Linked DNA regions of Homo sapiens: region 2 is linked to region 1. The links come from fine-mapping of genetic effects on gene expression. Tissue or cell type: whole blood. Region 1 holds a variant in brackets; the other region holds the start of a gene. All regions are shown on one strand. Distances are from middle to middle.

Region 1 (8,000 bases):
ATTTTCAAAGGAAAATAGCACAATACTAAACATTATGCATTTTCTTATCTCTGGCTTGTAAAAAATATAAATTTTTATACAAACTTTAGAGCTGCATCAACCTACCAAGTTATTAATAGTGATTATTTTTACAAGACAGGCTTACAGGTGAGTCTTCTTTATGCCTGTCTGAATTTCCTTATTTCCTACAATTAATATTTATTATATATTTGCATTGCTACAAATAGTGGTCTCAGGTTTGGATTGACAGTCAACTTCACTGGACAAAGAGGGTTTAATTTAGCACTAAGTTTATTTAACTTTTAGAAAGGATACAGGACAAGAAGCAAAGACTGTCCAGCATATATCATTCATATCAGGAGGTCTTACAACTACCCCGTTTTAAAGCCCCAAGAATGCACATAACACACTTGGTTGCCAAGATAAGGCATATATATATATATATATATATATATATATATATATATATATATACCACCTGAACACAGCAGGTTGGGCCTGGACTGTTCCTACAGTAGTGTCCTATGATTTGACTATCAGTCCAAAATCAGGGCCACTATCAGAGGCCATGCAATACTTTTGATGACAAAAGTACTTTTAGACCCTCAATTCTGTACGGCCAAGACTCCGGGGGTAAGTAAAAGGAAAGGGAAAGAGGGTCTGCCTGGCACTTGATTGACAGCATACTGTCTATGAGTTGAAGAAAAGAAAGCTCTACAGTAGATTACTGGGGACAAATCTCACCAGTTGAATCTGGATGACAGATTTATCCTCTCAGGTATTAATAAAATAGATTGAGAAACAGAAGAAAGTTGAGAATAGCTAAAAACATAATCCTTTAGTTGTTATTAACCATCCTGATGAAAATAAAATTGCTGGTGTAAAAGAAAGGGTAAAGGGAGCAAATAGAAGAAATAGTTTCAAGGATGGTACTTTAAGACAAAAACTGATACACATTGTAAACCAAATGCCCTCTTGGGAACAAGTAAGGACATCCTATTAAATCATGATGTCATTCCTCTGCAATTGGTGGTTAGACAACAGCAAATCAGAAGCTGTTGTGTAAAAAGAGCTGAGTAGTTTTTAGATAAATATTAGCAGCACCCTGAGGATTATTTATAATTATAGATCCTCTGCTAAATGATCAAGAGGCAAATAATTTAATTTTAGATACTGCAGAGTTGAGAGGACCAATAGTGATAAGTACTGATCTGAAACACATTGGAATATTTGGTATTCAAATCACACAGGACTTCAATGGGAAATGTGATCTTAATCCTTGTTCCCTTAAAGCAAGTGTCTCAAATTAAAAAGGAACTGCCCGAGTACAGTGGCTCACACCTGTAATCCCAACACTTTGGGAGGCCAAGGTGGGCAGATTGCTTTAGCTCAGGAGTTTGAGACCAGCCTGGGCAACATGGTGAAACCCCATCACTACCAAAAATACAAAAAGTGGCCAGGCATGGTGGCATGCACCTGTATTCCTAGCTACTCAGGAGGCTGAGGTGTGAGGATGGCTTGAGCCTGGGAGTCAGAGGTTGCAGTAAGCCAAGATCATGCCACTACACTCCAGCCTGGATGACAGAGCCAGACTGTGTCTCAAAAAAAAAAAAAAAAAGAAAGAAAGAAAAGAAAGAACTACCATTCTCTGTGGTACAATTATTAGTGACTGGGTAGATAAAGACCAACACTGTGACAGCCCTATGGGAGGTAGATGGGCTGCTCCATAACACTTGGAAACCGCTATCGGTTAAAACAAGTTCCTTAGTGGGTGGGGGGTATGGATGTGCCTCCAGACCAGTTAGATCCCTGCATTTATTGGAGACTGGTCTCCTGGCCCCTATAGCTGAAAATATATGGGCATAAGGGACAGTTTTGTTGAGAAGGACAGGAAAAGATACTGTAATATTAATACATATTGTGTTTTCTAGGGATTAATTTAACCTCTCATTCAAAGCTTTTTGGTGAAACAAAGCATTTGTAGGTTCCCTTAAGAGAATTTAAGAAAATAAAACATACCAATAATGATTTTCAAAGTAAAAGATATTTTGGTAAATTGACCTAAAACTTTCAATTGATGTGATACTTATGGAAATAGTTTGGCCAAAAAAAGAAATACATTTGCTTTAGAAATATAAAAACTGCGTGGTGGCTTCAGGAGGCTGAGGCGGGCAGATCACCTGAGGTCAGGAGTTGGAGACCAGTTTGACCAACATGGTGAAACCCCATCTGTACTAAAAATATAAAAACTAGCCAGGTGTGGTGGTACACTCCTGTAGTCCCAGCTACTCAAGAGGCCGAGGCATGAGAATCGCTTGAACCCAGGAGGCGGAGGTTGCAGTGAGCCAAAATTGCCCCACTGCACTCCAGCCTGGGCAACAGAGCAAGACTCTGTCTCAAAAAAAAAAAAAAAAAAAAGAGAGAGAGAAAGAGATAAAACATGTGATTGAATGCGTGTATCAATACCTTTAATAAGACGCAAGTGATAGTAAATGATAGAGGGGGGAAAAAAACAGTCTAGTTGGTTAAGAATTACCAAAACATTGTGAAGGATTCTGTTTACCTACTGTGTCTTATAGAGTCTAGTGGTTGTAGATGTACTAACTTGTCTTTTCTATTTATAAAATATTGAAGAAATGTTTGTCAAATGAACTCTGAAGAATATATGATACAAAGATAATAATCTGAGGTCATGGAAAGGTACCAAGGGTAAAGGGTTAACAGTGGATTTGAGCCCTTTCGAAAAAGCCAGAAGTAACTGGGAAGATAACCTTGAGTTTGAGTTCAGGCAACATAGTTTTCTAGATATAAAAATTAGTTAAGATAAATGTGGACTATTAACTATCATAGAACTAGGTTATCAGCACTGGATTTTATGAAACCATTGATTTGTGCATTGTATCAGGACTAGCAGTACTGGGATCAAGTATGCAGACCCTGAGGGCTATGTGACAGGAAGTGCATTAAGAACTGTTGAGAATTTCCCACTTTTGCAGTTAAAAAAAAACAAAAAACAAAACTGTTGAGAACTAAAGGCAGCCGCTTTCCTGTGCTGGGGAAGTCTGCCCCCATGTCAGCTTCCTTCTGTGTAACTGAGTGTGCCCCAAGCAGTGATAGGGCCTAGAAGCTACACCTAAGCATTGCAATACTGTTGTTTTGTTTTGTTTTGTTTTTAGACGGAGTCTCCCTCTGTCGCCCATGCTGGAGTGCAGTGGCGTAACCTCAACTCACAGCAACCTCCACCTCCTGGGTTCAAGTGATGCCTCAGCCTCCCAAATAGCTGGGATTACAGGCGCCCGCCACCAAGCCCAGCTAATTTTTGTATTTTTAGTAGAGACAGGGTTTCACCATGTTGGGCCAGGCTGGTCTTGAACTCCTGACCTTAAGAAGTGATCTAACCGCCTCAGCCTCCCAAAGTGCTGGGATTACAGGCATGAGCCACCACGCCCAGCCGCATTGAAATATCTTCTAAAGGGCCGGGTGTGGTGGCTCATGCCTGTAATCCCAGCACTTTGGGAGGCCAAGGTGGGCAGATCATGAGGTCAAGAGATTAAGACTCCTGGCCAACATGGTGAAACCCCGTTTCTACTAAAAATACAAAAATTAGCTGAGCATGGTGGCGCGTGCTTGTAGTCCCAGCTACTCAGGAGGCTGAGGCAGGAGAATTGCTTGAACCCGGGAGGCGGAGTGCAGAGACCACACCACTGCACTCCAGCCTGGCGACAAAGCAAGACCCCATCTCAAATAAAAAAAAAAGAAAAGAAATACCTTCTAAAGAAGATACTGATATGCTATACTGTGTTTTCTTCCTGGTATCCTTTCACCATGCTAGATAAACTTAATGCTAGGTGAAAACCTATTATGTCCTGTGAGTCGGACAGTCTGAATTTCAGACAACAATTCGTGGCTATATACTTTTAATATTGTTGTTGTTGTTTTTTGTTTTTTTTTTAAGAGATGAGGTCTCACTCTGTTGCCCAGGTTGGAATGCAGTGGACTATCGTTGTTCATTGCAATCTTGCATTCCTGGGCTCAAGTAATCCTCCCATCTCAATCTCCCAGGTAGCTAAGACTACAGGTATGCAACACTACAACTAGTTAATTTTTTAATTTATTTTATTTTATTTATTTATTTTTTTAGAGACAGGATTTTTCTCTGCTGTCCAGGCTAGTGTGCAGTGGTGTGATCATACCTCTGCGAGTTTGAGTTGAGCCTAAAACGCCTGGGCTCAAGTGATCTTCCTGCCTCAACCACCCCAGTAGCTGGGACTACAGACATACCACCATGCCTGGCTAATTTTTTAAAATTTTTTGTGGAGACATGATCTCACTCTGTTGCCCCAGCTGATCTGAAACTCCTGGCCTCAAACAATCCTCCTACCTCAGCCTCCCAAAGGGTTGGGATTACAGATGTGAGCCACTGCACCCAGCCTTAACTGCTTTTTTAACTACGGTAAAATTTATCATCTTAACAATTACAGTTCAGTGGCATTAAGTGCATTAACACTGCTGTGCAGTCATTACTACTATCCTCTCTCAAATGTTTTCATCTTCCCAAACTGTAGCTCTGTACTCATACACATTGCCATGTTACTTTTTATAACCAAAAATAAAATAATATAAACTTTTAAAACTAAAAGGCATTTAAGAGAATAAAAACTCACCCATGATCACTTGTTATATTATGACTTTTTAGTCTCTGCCCTAATTCTTACACATTTTTGTTTTATTATTTTATTTTATTTATTTATTTGTTTGTTTTCTTTGAAACAGAGTCTTGCTCTGTTGCCAGGCTGGAGTGCACTGGTGTGATCTTGGCTCACTGCAACCTCCGCCTCCCAGGTTCAGGCGATTCTCCTGCCGCAGCCTCCTGAGTAGCTGGGATTACAGGGGCACACCACCACACCCGGCTAATTTTTTTTTTTTTTTTTTTT[G/TTG]TATTTTAGTAGAGACGGAGTTTCACCATATTGGCCAGGATGGTCTTGATCTCCTGACCTCATGATCAGCCCACCTAGGCCTTCCAAAATGCTGGGATTACAGGCATAAGCCACTGCGCCCAGCCTATTATTTTATTTATTTATCTTTTTTCTGAGACAGAGTCTTGCTCTGTTGCCCAGGCTGGATTGCACTGGCACAATATTGGCTCACTGCAACCTCTGCCTCCTAGGTTCAAGCAATTCTTGTGCCTCAGCCTCCCAAGTAGCTGGGATTACAGGCACGCACAACCACAGCTGGCTAATTTTTGTTTTTTTTTTTTTTTTTTTTTTTTTAGTAGAGACGGTTTTCACCATGTTGGCCAGGCTGGTCTCGAACTCCTGACCTCAGGTGATCTGCCCACCTTGGCCTCCCAAAGTATTGGGATTATAGGCGTGAGCCACCATGCCTGGCCTCTTACACATTTTTGTAGGGTTGTTTTAAGTATACATACAGTAGACTTGTGGTTTTTGTTAAGTTCAATATTCCAAGCTGTGAATATCCAAAAGTGATTTTTAAGTTCTTTTTTTTTTTTTTTTTTTTTGAGATGGAGTTTCACTCTTGTTGCCCAGGCTGGAGTGCAATGGCGCTGTCTTGGCTCACTGCAACCTCTGCCTCCTGGGTTCCAGTGATTCTCCTGCCTCAGCCTCCCAAGTACCTGGGATTACAGGCGCCCATCACCACACCGAGCTAATTTTTGTATTTTTAGAAGAGATGGGGTTTTACCATGTTGTTCAGGCTGGTCTCGAACTGCTGACCTCAGGTGATCCACCCGCCTTGGCCTCCCAAAGCGCTGGAATTACAGGCGTGAGCCACCCCGCCCAGCCAATTTTTAAGTTCTATAACTTCTACTAATATGTAACTTGACTCTTGACTAAACCATGAAGAATAATCCTGTGTGCTGTTAAGGCTAATATATATGGAGTCAGATGCTTCATTTATAAGAAAACCATATTGATTTCTGATCATCTGCATTAGCTTAATGTTTCATCTACTCAAATGATGAACATTTAATAAGTTCTTGGCATGGTTCTAGCATTTTACATGTAGTATTAACTTATTTACTCTCCATAAGGCTATTATGTAAAGTAGGTTCTATAATTATCCCCATTTCGAAGATAAGTAAACAACTTCTGATATTTTAAGTAATTTCCCAATATCATATCACTAATAAATGATGAAGCAGGTTTCAAACCTGGACAACCTGGGTCCAAAGTCCATGCTCATAATCACTATGCTTTTATTACTCTCAAATATATGAGTTGTGAAATAATAAGTACTTTTTCTTTTTGAAAAATGCCCCCAAAAAGAAAGCTATGTATAAGTCTGAATTTAGTGGTTTTCAGGAGCCTAGAGTTATTTATCTCACAAAAAGCAAGGATCAACTACTTGATTTTTGTCCGTGATATTTATTCTTAAGACTGACTATTAAGGCATTAAGAAACTGAATAGGTACTATTACCTTTGAATAACTTGTTTATGGATATTTTTCCAGTGTTCCTTATCTGAATCCGTTCCTAATTTAGGGTCCAGAGTCTTCAGAGCAACACCAGCAACATTCACCCCACTCCATAAGGGCACTAAAAAATACAGATCTCAAAATAAACTCTTCTTCCCAATATGGCATCAGGAGTTTGAGTTCAGTGTTGTTTTTTTAAGTTAAGTTGCCACCTGATATGGTTCAGATGTTTGTCTCCTCCAAATCTCATGTTGAAATGTAACCGCTAGTGTTGGGGGTGGGAAGTGTCTGATCATGGGTGCAGATCCCTCATGAATAGCTTAGCATCATCTCCTGTTGAAGAGTGAGTCTTCACTCTAAGTTCATGTGAGATCTGGTTGTTTAAAAGTATATGGCACCTCCTCTCTCTCGTTTCTGCCCTCACTATGTGACACATCTACTCCTCCTTTGCCTTCTGCCATGATTGCAAGCTTCCTGAGGTCCTCATCAAGAGCATATCTTGGAGCCATGCCTGTACAACCTGCAGAAGCACAAGCTAAATTAAACCCCTTTTCTTTATAAATTACTCAGCCTCAGGTATTTCTTTTGTTTTTTTTTTCTTTTTCACTCAGGCTGTAGCATAGTGGCTTGATCTCAGCTCACTGCAACCTCCACCTCCCAAGTTCAAGGGATTCTTCTGTTTCAGCCTCCCGAGCAGCTGGGATTACAGGTGTGTGCCACCACACCCAGCTTTTTTTTGTATTTTTAGTAGAGATGGGGTTTCGCTATGTTGGCCAGGCTGGTCTTAAACTCCTGGCCTCAAGTGATCCACACGCGTTGGCCTCCAAAAGTGCTGGGATTACAGGCATGAGCCACTACTCCTGGCCAGGTATTTCTTTTTCTTTTTTTTTTTTTTTTGAGAGGGAGTCTTGCTCTGTCGCCCAGGCTAGAGTGCAGTGGCGCGATCTCGGCTCACTGCAAGCTCCACCTCCCGGGTTCACGCCATTCTCCCGCCTCAGCCTCCCGAGTCACTGGGACTACAGGTGCCCACCACCACGCCTGGCTAATTTTTTGTATTTTTAGTAGAGACGGGTTTTCACTGTGTTAGCCAGGATGGTCTCAATCTCCTGACCTCGTGATCCGTCCACCTCAGCCTCCCAAAGTGCTGGGATTATAGGCGTGAGCCACCGTGCCCGGCCCTGGCCAGGTATTTCTTTACAGCAACACAAAAATGGCCTAAAACACCACCTTACACCATACATAAAAATAGGTTTCAAATGTATAAAAGAGGGAAATGTAAGAAATAAAATTATAAGGTTGTTAGAAAATATGTAGTAGAATTTATTTATAATTGTGTGGTATAGGAGGCATTTTTAAGCAACATACATATTTTTAAGCAATATGCAAAATGCAGTATAAACAAAGAAAAAGACTGATAAGAAAGATAAAATATAAGCAATGAGAGGGAAAAGAATGTCAAATTAATACCATACTTCTCAATAGTAAACAAGAGCCAAGGAGGAATAACTGTCAATCTAGAATCTCACATCCAATTAACCTGTCATTCCAGAATAAGATGAGACTAAAACAG
Region 2 (8,000 bases), 47 kb after region 1:
CTGACCTCGTGATCCACCCACCTCAGCCTCCTAAAGTGCTGGCATTACAAGCATGAGCCACTGTGCCCCGCCTCAGACATTTTAATGTTGTAAGCTGCCTCAATTTCTTTTAAATATAAATCAGCTTTCAATAGTGTAATAAGGAGTGCTTTACTCACAATTTCTTTTTTCTAATTAAATTTTAGCTCCATAATTGATAACAAAATTGCTATCCAAGGCACAGGGGCAATGAGATTTGAGTGGGAGAACTTATGATTTCCCATATAATTTTACCAATAAATGACAATTTTTGAATTGTCATTTTCAATTCAAAAATCACTTTAAAAGAATTTTGGCTCATTTAAAATCATGGACCCTTCCTTTTCATTGGTAGTCAATCCATGCATGTTAATACAGAATAATGAATTTTAGGAACTGGGTCTCCAGCCTGACAACCTTTGATTCTTTTTAATTTCAGATACACTTTTGGTGTATTATCATATTTCAAAAGTTTGTTTCACAGAAAGTTATCCGAATGAGTGCATAAATCTAAATACTGTTACATGAAATGTAATAATACAGTTCTAGGGGTAGGAGTGGGGGTAGAGGATGGGGTCAAGGTATGGGCTTCCAGTGTGGTAGACTCTCACTTACCTTCATTAAGATACTGATGGCACAGGCCATGCCAACAGCACCAACCCCAACAACTGTAATCTTATTCTGGGGGGTCTGTTCTTCCTTTAGAAGATTATAAATCAGCTGATCCTTTAGAGTTGCCATATTGGACTTGGAACCAAAAGGAATCTATAGGAGGAAAAACATTTAGTGTCACTACAGCTTCTTTAATGTTTATTAACCAAGAGATTTTTTTAAGCTATTTTACTTCCTTTGGGGGTATTTGCCACTATAAATCACTAGAGATGACTAAAAAGGGAGGGGAAAAAACCTAATGGTTGCCAAAAGAGAGTTGAAAGGCCTAATGACAGGGTCTGTGAAGAGTGAAGGCCCATACCTTAGCGTGGAAAAGGAATATCGACGTTTGGGTGTAAGTATAGCCTCCTGAGGGTTCACCCATCGCGGTTTATTAACCCCAAGTGGGGCTGGCCTTTCCTCAGACAAGATCACTCTGAGCTACTCCGGCTCCTACAGCAAGGACACAGCCAGGCTTCTCAAGTAAACACCAGAGATACGTGCAGAAAAGCCATTAACTGCCACAAAGCTCAAGCCCAAGGCACAGGAGCCTGCGGTGATCCGCGCGCATGCGCGCTTTGTGGCTCTCCTTCCCGCTCGGAAAGGTGGGCGGAAATCAGACTAATTGCTGGGTCCTCCGAACGCCCGGCTTTTACGCCCCGCCCAAGTCCGGAAGATGGGCGGGCCCAGGAACTTGTGCGCGTGCGCATGCGCATTACAGCGCGCAGGGCGAAGCCGATTAGTCTAGCGGCCTCCGGCCGTTGGGAAGCGGGCATCGGGCCAGAAGGCAGAAGGCTGAGAAGCCCCGCCCGTAAGCAGAGGCAATCTGGAGCTATGCAGCTCAGTGGGTGAGAGGGAGGGAGCTGGGATTCAGACTTCAGACCTAATGAATGCCCCGAAGCAGACGCCAGCAACGTGAAGCCTAGCTGGCAGCCTCCCAGGTCTGGCGCGCAGCCAGCGCCAGACTTTAAATCGCAATACTAGAAACCAGGGCCTGTTAACCAACCGGGAGGGAGGCGCACGGTGTGGCTTCGGCCGTGATCCTTGTTGCAAAGGCCTGTCAGGCCCAGTATGAAGAAATAGTTTCAGTACAGGGAGTGTAGAAATAGCTGCAGAAGGCCTGAGGCCTGCAGCCCTAGAGTTAATAGCTACTTGGTGGAACCCTCGAATTCTTTCCACCTTGTTAATCCAACCCTGCACTGCATTCGCTGGAGGAAATATCACAGGCTGCATCCCCAAAGTATCACGTCTAGTTTTGACACCACTCCAAAGGGCAAAAATCCGAGAGGACCTCTAGGCAGGCAGTCAGCCCAGAGTCACCAAGCTGGAGCCGGGTCTCTCCTTACAAATCACTGCTATTTCTAGACAGCCTTGTAAGGTTTCTAGCCTGGCAGGGGGAAGGGAGTTCCTGCGGACACCTGCTAGCTTCACTGAACGGCCCCGGGATCCAATGCTACCTTTAATGTAGGGGCGGAGGTGGGAGGGCATGGGATGAGGGAAGGGTGCGTCTAGAGGCGAGAGACATGCAAAAACGAGTTCTACACCTCACCTCTGCCTCCTACTCACTGGGAACTTAGAGATCCCTGACTGTCTCCTAGCTTTCGGTCTCCCTATTTGTTAAAAGGAGGAGTTGGTACCGGCGGATCCTACTCAACTGACCGTCTGAGGTGCGGAAGGGCTGGGATGCTGCCTGCTTCATCTTTGCATGCGCCGTGCCTAGCGCAGCCCGAGATACACCAGTAGCTTCTTAATAAATGCGCAAAGGGCTCCCTATAATCTGCAGGCAGCAGCTGCCCTCACGGAGCCCACCTCTCGAGCGTCCCAAGAGAAAAATGCAAGCCGCGTGGTACTCAGCCGCTTTCCGTCTTTCAAGAACCCGCCCCGGACAAGCTGAGGCTTTTTTGGCTCTATGGGCTCCGAGAACTGGACCTCGAGTTTTGCACCGCCCGCCGATTTCGAGCCCAGAGGTATCCCCCACCCTTAAGGCCTATCATATCCTTGTTCCGCATCCACCCGGGCTTTCGACCCCTGCTTGGGTGCGGCCACCTCCTCGGTTCCCCAGCGTGGCCAGAAGCCATGGTTCCCGCTTAGAGCAAAAGCAGAGCGCGGCGAGCTCCGAACACATGCGTTGTGTGGGCCGCCGCCCAGACGTCTCTGGGCTGTGCTTCTGGAAAGCGGCTCCTACACCTCCCGGGAGCAGGAATCCCTTCGCGAGCAGCGGAGGCCAGCAGAACCAGAGGCAGTTGGCTCTACCCGCCCATCCCTCTGGCGCCGTGCGCGCAGGGCCCTACCGTACCGGGAATGCACGTCGGGCGGTCGTCGGGGGCGCGTGGCAATGAGATCCGGAATCGGCGGCAGCGGCTGCAGCACTCTGAGCTGGGCGCGGGAGGGGCCTTAAGTGGAACAGCTATGCTGACGTCAGCGGGGGGGGCCGGCGGACGTGCGGGAACCCACGTGTGAGTCGGGCTGGGGGTGGATGCCGAGCCAGGCGGGGCACTGGAGAGGCCCGGGTGGCGCGCGCAGCCAGACAACCGACCGGCAGACTGCTCCACGTGCGCTGGGAGTCTAAGTAAGGTGCTGCCCTCCAACCACAGAAGCCGGGGTCGGAGCCATGAGCCTGAGTCAGGACGACCTTCAGTTTCCTCATCCATGAAACCTGGGGAGGTTACTCTCAGGAAGGCTTGGATCTGTTTCTTCTTCATCCCTGTTTCTCAGTGTCCAGAACAGCTTCTGGCACGTAATAGGCACTCCACAAATATTTGTTGAACGAAAGGAAGAAAATGCCTAGCAGTCAGTCAGTCTGTTCTTACCTAAGTCGAGTGACCTCCAAAACTCGACGCTGCTTTTCCCTCTGCTGCTAAGCCTACCAGCTCCCACTCACAGTGAAGCCTTGGCCTCTCAGGCCTTGCAGGGTGACTCAGTTCAAATGTACATTTTATTCTGCACTTTCTACTGCCCACCCCACTGGCATCTCATCTCGAGTCTCAACCATACCCAAGAACTGTCAGTGGCTTGTTTTTTTGGTTTTGGTTTTTTGTTTGTTTATTTGTTTTTTGGTATTTTTCGAGACAGGGTCTCACTCTGTCACCCAGGCTGGAGGGCAGTGGCGTGATCATGGCTTCCTGCAGCCTCGACCTTCTGGCTCAAGCGATCCTCCCACCTCGGCTCCCCGAAGTGACTGGGACTACAAGCGCGCCCACTTGCCCTGCGATTTTTTTTTTAATTATTAATTTTTTTTTTTTTGAAACGGAGTCGCTCTGTCGCCCAGGCTGGAGTGCAGTGGGCTGATCTCGGCTCACTGCAACCTCCGCCTCCCGGGTTCAAGCGAATCTCCTGCCTCAGCCTCCTGAGAAGATGGGATTACAGCCAGGCGCCACCACGCCCGGCTAATTTTTGTAATTTTTAGTAGAGACGGGGTTTCACCATGTTGGTCAGGCTGATCTCAAACTCCTGGCCTCAAGTGATCTGGCCGCCTCGGCCTCACAAAGAGCTGGGATTACAGGCGTGAGCCACCGTGCCCAGCTCAATTTTTTGTTTTCTTATCATACTTACCTCTGGGCCTGTATTCTTGCTGATTCCATTGCCTAGCCCGCCCTCCTCCATCTCTTCTTTAATTTGTACCAATACTTCCCCACTGTGGGGTATATTATGAAATATATTTGGTAAGCCCTTGAGTATGCCAAAATTTCCTGAATTTTCTGATAGGAATGTCTTTTGTTATTTATAAAGAGCCTTTTTCCCTGACTTAATGTTAATGAATGAGGAGTCTTAGATAGCCTCAGGAAGGAGCCAGTCATGGGAAAGACCAAATGATTAGGGAATTAGAGGGCTGGAACTTTCAGCCCAAAGGGGTGGATGGCTTTACTTACTCCCTGAACCTACAGCAGCAGCCCAGTGCAGCTTTGAGATAGATCCATAACTGAGTTTCTTGGTTTTGACGGAAAACTCTAACCTCAGCTCCAAAATAGCACAAGGGGCCAGGTGCAGTGACTCATGCCTGTAATCCCAGCACCAATGTGGTTGAGGTGGGAGGACTGCTTGAGGCCAGGAGTTCGAGACTAGCCTGGGCAGCATAGTGAGACCCTGTCTCAAAAAAAAAAAAAAAATAGCAGGGCATGCTTGCATGTTCTAACAGTTTTCCCATCACTCTAGATTCTAAGATCACTCTAGGTTCTGAAATGGGGCTCTCACCTCAAACACACAGCTGGAAAGTTTAGGGGTGGGCCACTGATTCTTCAGAGTACCTCAGGGCAGGGCAGATTGCCACAGTGTTTTCCGGTTTCTCAGTCTTTGCAACAGTGTTCTCAGTCAGGGCTGGGCCCCTGCCTGCCTACCAAATGTGACCACTGCTGCTGGGAAGAGGTGTGCAGAAGGCAGAGAGCTGAAGTTGGCTGGGGAGACGAAGAATTTTCACCTGAAAGGCTTGGGTTGGGGCACTCTGAGATGACCTGTGAAGATAAACTAGGTAGAGTCTTCATTCCCCTAATTTATGATACCTAGCAACAGCTTGCTCCAAGCACAGCTTCAGGCTTCTTAGGCAGAACAACAGCCAGTATTTGACTCCACAAATATGAATAAAACAAATACCATTTACTGAGCACCTGCTATGGTGCTGGCAGCCAGCTAGGTAATCCCCATACTCATCCTTTGGAGTAGGCATAATTATCCCCATTTTTCAGATATGGAAACCAAGGCTCAGAAAGGTAAGTGACTTTGCTAAGGTAGTGCAGCTAGTAAGTGATTTTGGCTGAGACTTTAACCCAGTGCTGACTAACCCCAAAGCCTATGATTTTCTCTCTATTATAGGATGTTGTCCCACATCACTCCATACAAAGGGCAAGAAATTATCTAGGGGGCCCAAACCAGTCCCAGGCTCAGAAGAGGCTGTGGGTGCCAATGGGTGTATCTGCTGAGACCTTGGTATTCTGCCCTTAGACTGGGACTTAGACCCTTGGCTCTCCTGATTCTCAGGCCTTTGGGCTCGAACTGGAATTTATACCACCAGCTTTCCTGAGTCTCCAGCTTGCAGATGGCAAGATCATGGGACTTCTCTGCCTGCATAAACACATAAGTAAATTCCTCCTCATAAATCTCTTTATATATATTCTTCCATTGGTTCTGTTTCTCTGGAGAACCCTGACTAATATAGAACCCTGACTAATACAATCCAAACAGTAGAACTTCTGTACTAAAGCCAGAGAAGAATGTGGAACCCTTGGAACAGGTCAGAAAACACTTTCAGGGGACAGAACAGAATTCTTAATCTGACCAAGTGTTCTTTGGATGTGGCCTCTTCAAAAGGGAAAACCCCTAGCACAGTCACTATGGAAAACAGTATGGAGACCCCTCAAAAAACTAAAACTGCAACTTCCATATGATCCAGCAATCTGAGTATATATCCAAAAGAAACGAAATCAGTATATCAAACAGATATCTGCACTCCCATGACTATTGCAGCACTATTCACAATAGCTGAAGTATGGATGAACTCAATCTAAGTGTCATCAATGGATGGATGATAAAGAAAATGTGTTGGCCAGGTGCAGTGGCTCATGCCTCTAATCCCAGCACTTTGGGAGGCCGAGGTGGGCGGATTACCTGAGGTCAGGAGTTCAAGACCGGCCTGACCAACATGATGAAACCCCATCTCTACTAAATAAAAAAATTAGCCGGGCGTGGTGGTACATGCCTGTAATCCCCAGCTACTTGGGAGGCTGAAGCAGGAGAATTGCTTGAACCCAGGAAGCAGAGGGGCTGGACATGGTGGCTCATGCCTGTAATCCCAGCACTTTGGAAGGCTGAGGCAGGCAGATTGAGCCCAGGAGTTCAAGACCAGCCTGGGCAACATGGTGAACCCCCATATCTACAAAAAATACAAAAAAAAAAATTAGCTGAGGATGGTGGTAAATGCCTGTAGTCCCATCTACCCAGGAGGTTGAGGTGGGAGGATCACCTGACCCAGGGAGGTCCAGGCTGCAGTGAACTGTGATGTCACCACTGCAATCCAGAGCAAGACCCTGTCTCAAAAAAAAAAATTTAAAAAAAGAAGAAAAAAATGTGCTGTATATACCCAGTGAAATACTATTCAGCTATTTCAGAATGAAATCCTGTCATTTGCAGCAACATGGATGGAACTGGAGGTCATTATGTTAAGTGAAATAAACTGGCACAGAAAGGCAAACATCGCATGTTCTCACTCATGTGGGAACTAAAAAATTTGGTCTTATGGAGGTAGTGAATAGAATGGTGGTTACCACAAGTTGGGGAGGATAGTGGGGATGAAGGATGAAGAGGGATTGGTTAATGGGTGCAAAAATACAGTTAGATAGGGCGAGTATAGTTAATAACTTATTGTATATTTCAAAATAGCTAGAAGATTCAGAATGTGCCCAACACAAAGAAATCACAAATATTTGAGGTGATGGATATACCAGTTCCCCAGATTTGATCATTATACATTTTATGCTTGTATCAAAATGTCACATGTACCTCATGCATATGTACAACTATTATGTATCAGTAAAATTTTTTTAAAGGGAAAATCCCATAAAGAGGTGGTTTAACCAAGGGACAAGCTGGCCTCAGAGAATAGATGCTGCTTAGCACCCACTGTAAGATTTTCCTAAAATGGCCCTGGCTGCAGGATGCTGTCCATCCAAAACATAGTGCTGAGTCATTCCTTCATCTTGTATTTATTATACGCCTCCTTAAGAGCATTCGGTGGCCCCTCATTGCCTCAAGAATAAAGTCCAAACACTTTGGAAAGACACAGCCAAACCCCTGTGATCCAGCGCCCACATCCCCTCTCTGGTTTTATCTATTTTCCTTCATGCTTCCTATGTACCAGTCCCAGGGCTACGCACCACATTCTCCAAATGTGCCATGTACTCTCTCACCTCAAGCCTTCCACCTAGGGAGTTCCTTCACTCTGAGTGCCCTCTCCTTTGCCATCATCCCTACCCACCTGAGCCCCACATAACCAGCACTCAATATATTCCTTTTTTTTGAGACAGGGTCTCCCTCTGTGACCCAGTGCAATCTCAGCTCACTGTATGCAACCTCCACATCCCAGGCTCAGGTGATCCTCCCACCTCAGCCTCCTGAGTAGCTGTAACTATAAGTGTGCACCACAATGCCCGGCTAATTTTTATATTTTTAGTAGAGACGGGGTTTCTCCATGTTGTCCAGCCTCGTCTTGAACTCCTGGGCCCAAGCCATCTGCCTACCTCAGCCTCCCAAATAAATTAATTCATATTTGTATATGTCTCTGTCACTGAACTGTAAGCTCCTAGTGCAAATAAACTTTTTTTCCACTGGGAAACTTTCTTTCC

What was found. PIP is the estimated chance that this variant, and not a neighbour inherited with it, causes the effect.
Region 2: it holds the start of LDHA, and the variant in region 1 is fine-mapped to the expression of LDHA in whole blood (INTERVAL, PIP above 0.99).

The regions. Positions count from the first base shown.
Region 1 is chr11:18,437,079-18,445,078 of GRCh38, reverse strand. It overlaps LDHC (lactate dehydrogenase C), which reads right to left. Exons shown (of 8, transcript NM_017448.5): 6 at 6,434-6,551. Among named protein-coding and RNA genes, the nearest start is that of LDHAL6A, 15 kb to the left of the region's middle. The variant G/TTG (reference allele first, on the strand shown) is at 4,935.
Region 2 is chr11:18,389,602-18,397,601 of GRCh38, reverse strand. It overlaps LDHA (lactate dehydrogenase A), which reads right to left and starts at 3,039. Exons shown (of 8, transcript NM_005566.4): 1 at 2,966-3,039; 2 at 634-783. The coding sequence starts at 759. RefSeq lists enhancers at 1,178-1,679, 2,944-3,033, 2,414-3,079, 3,344-3,433, 3,080-3,744 and a silencer at 2,134-2,183.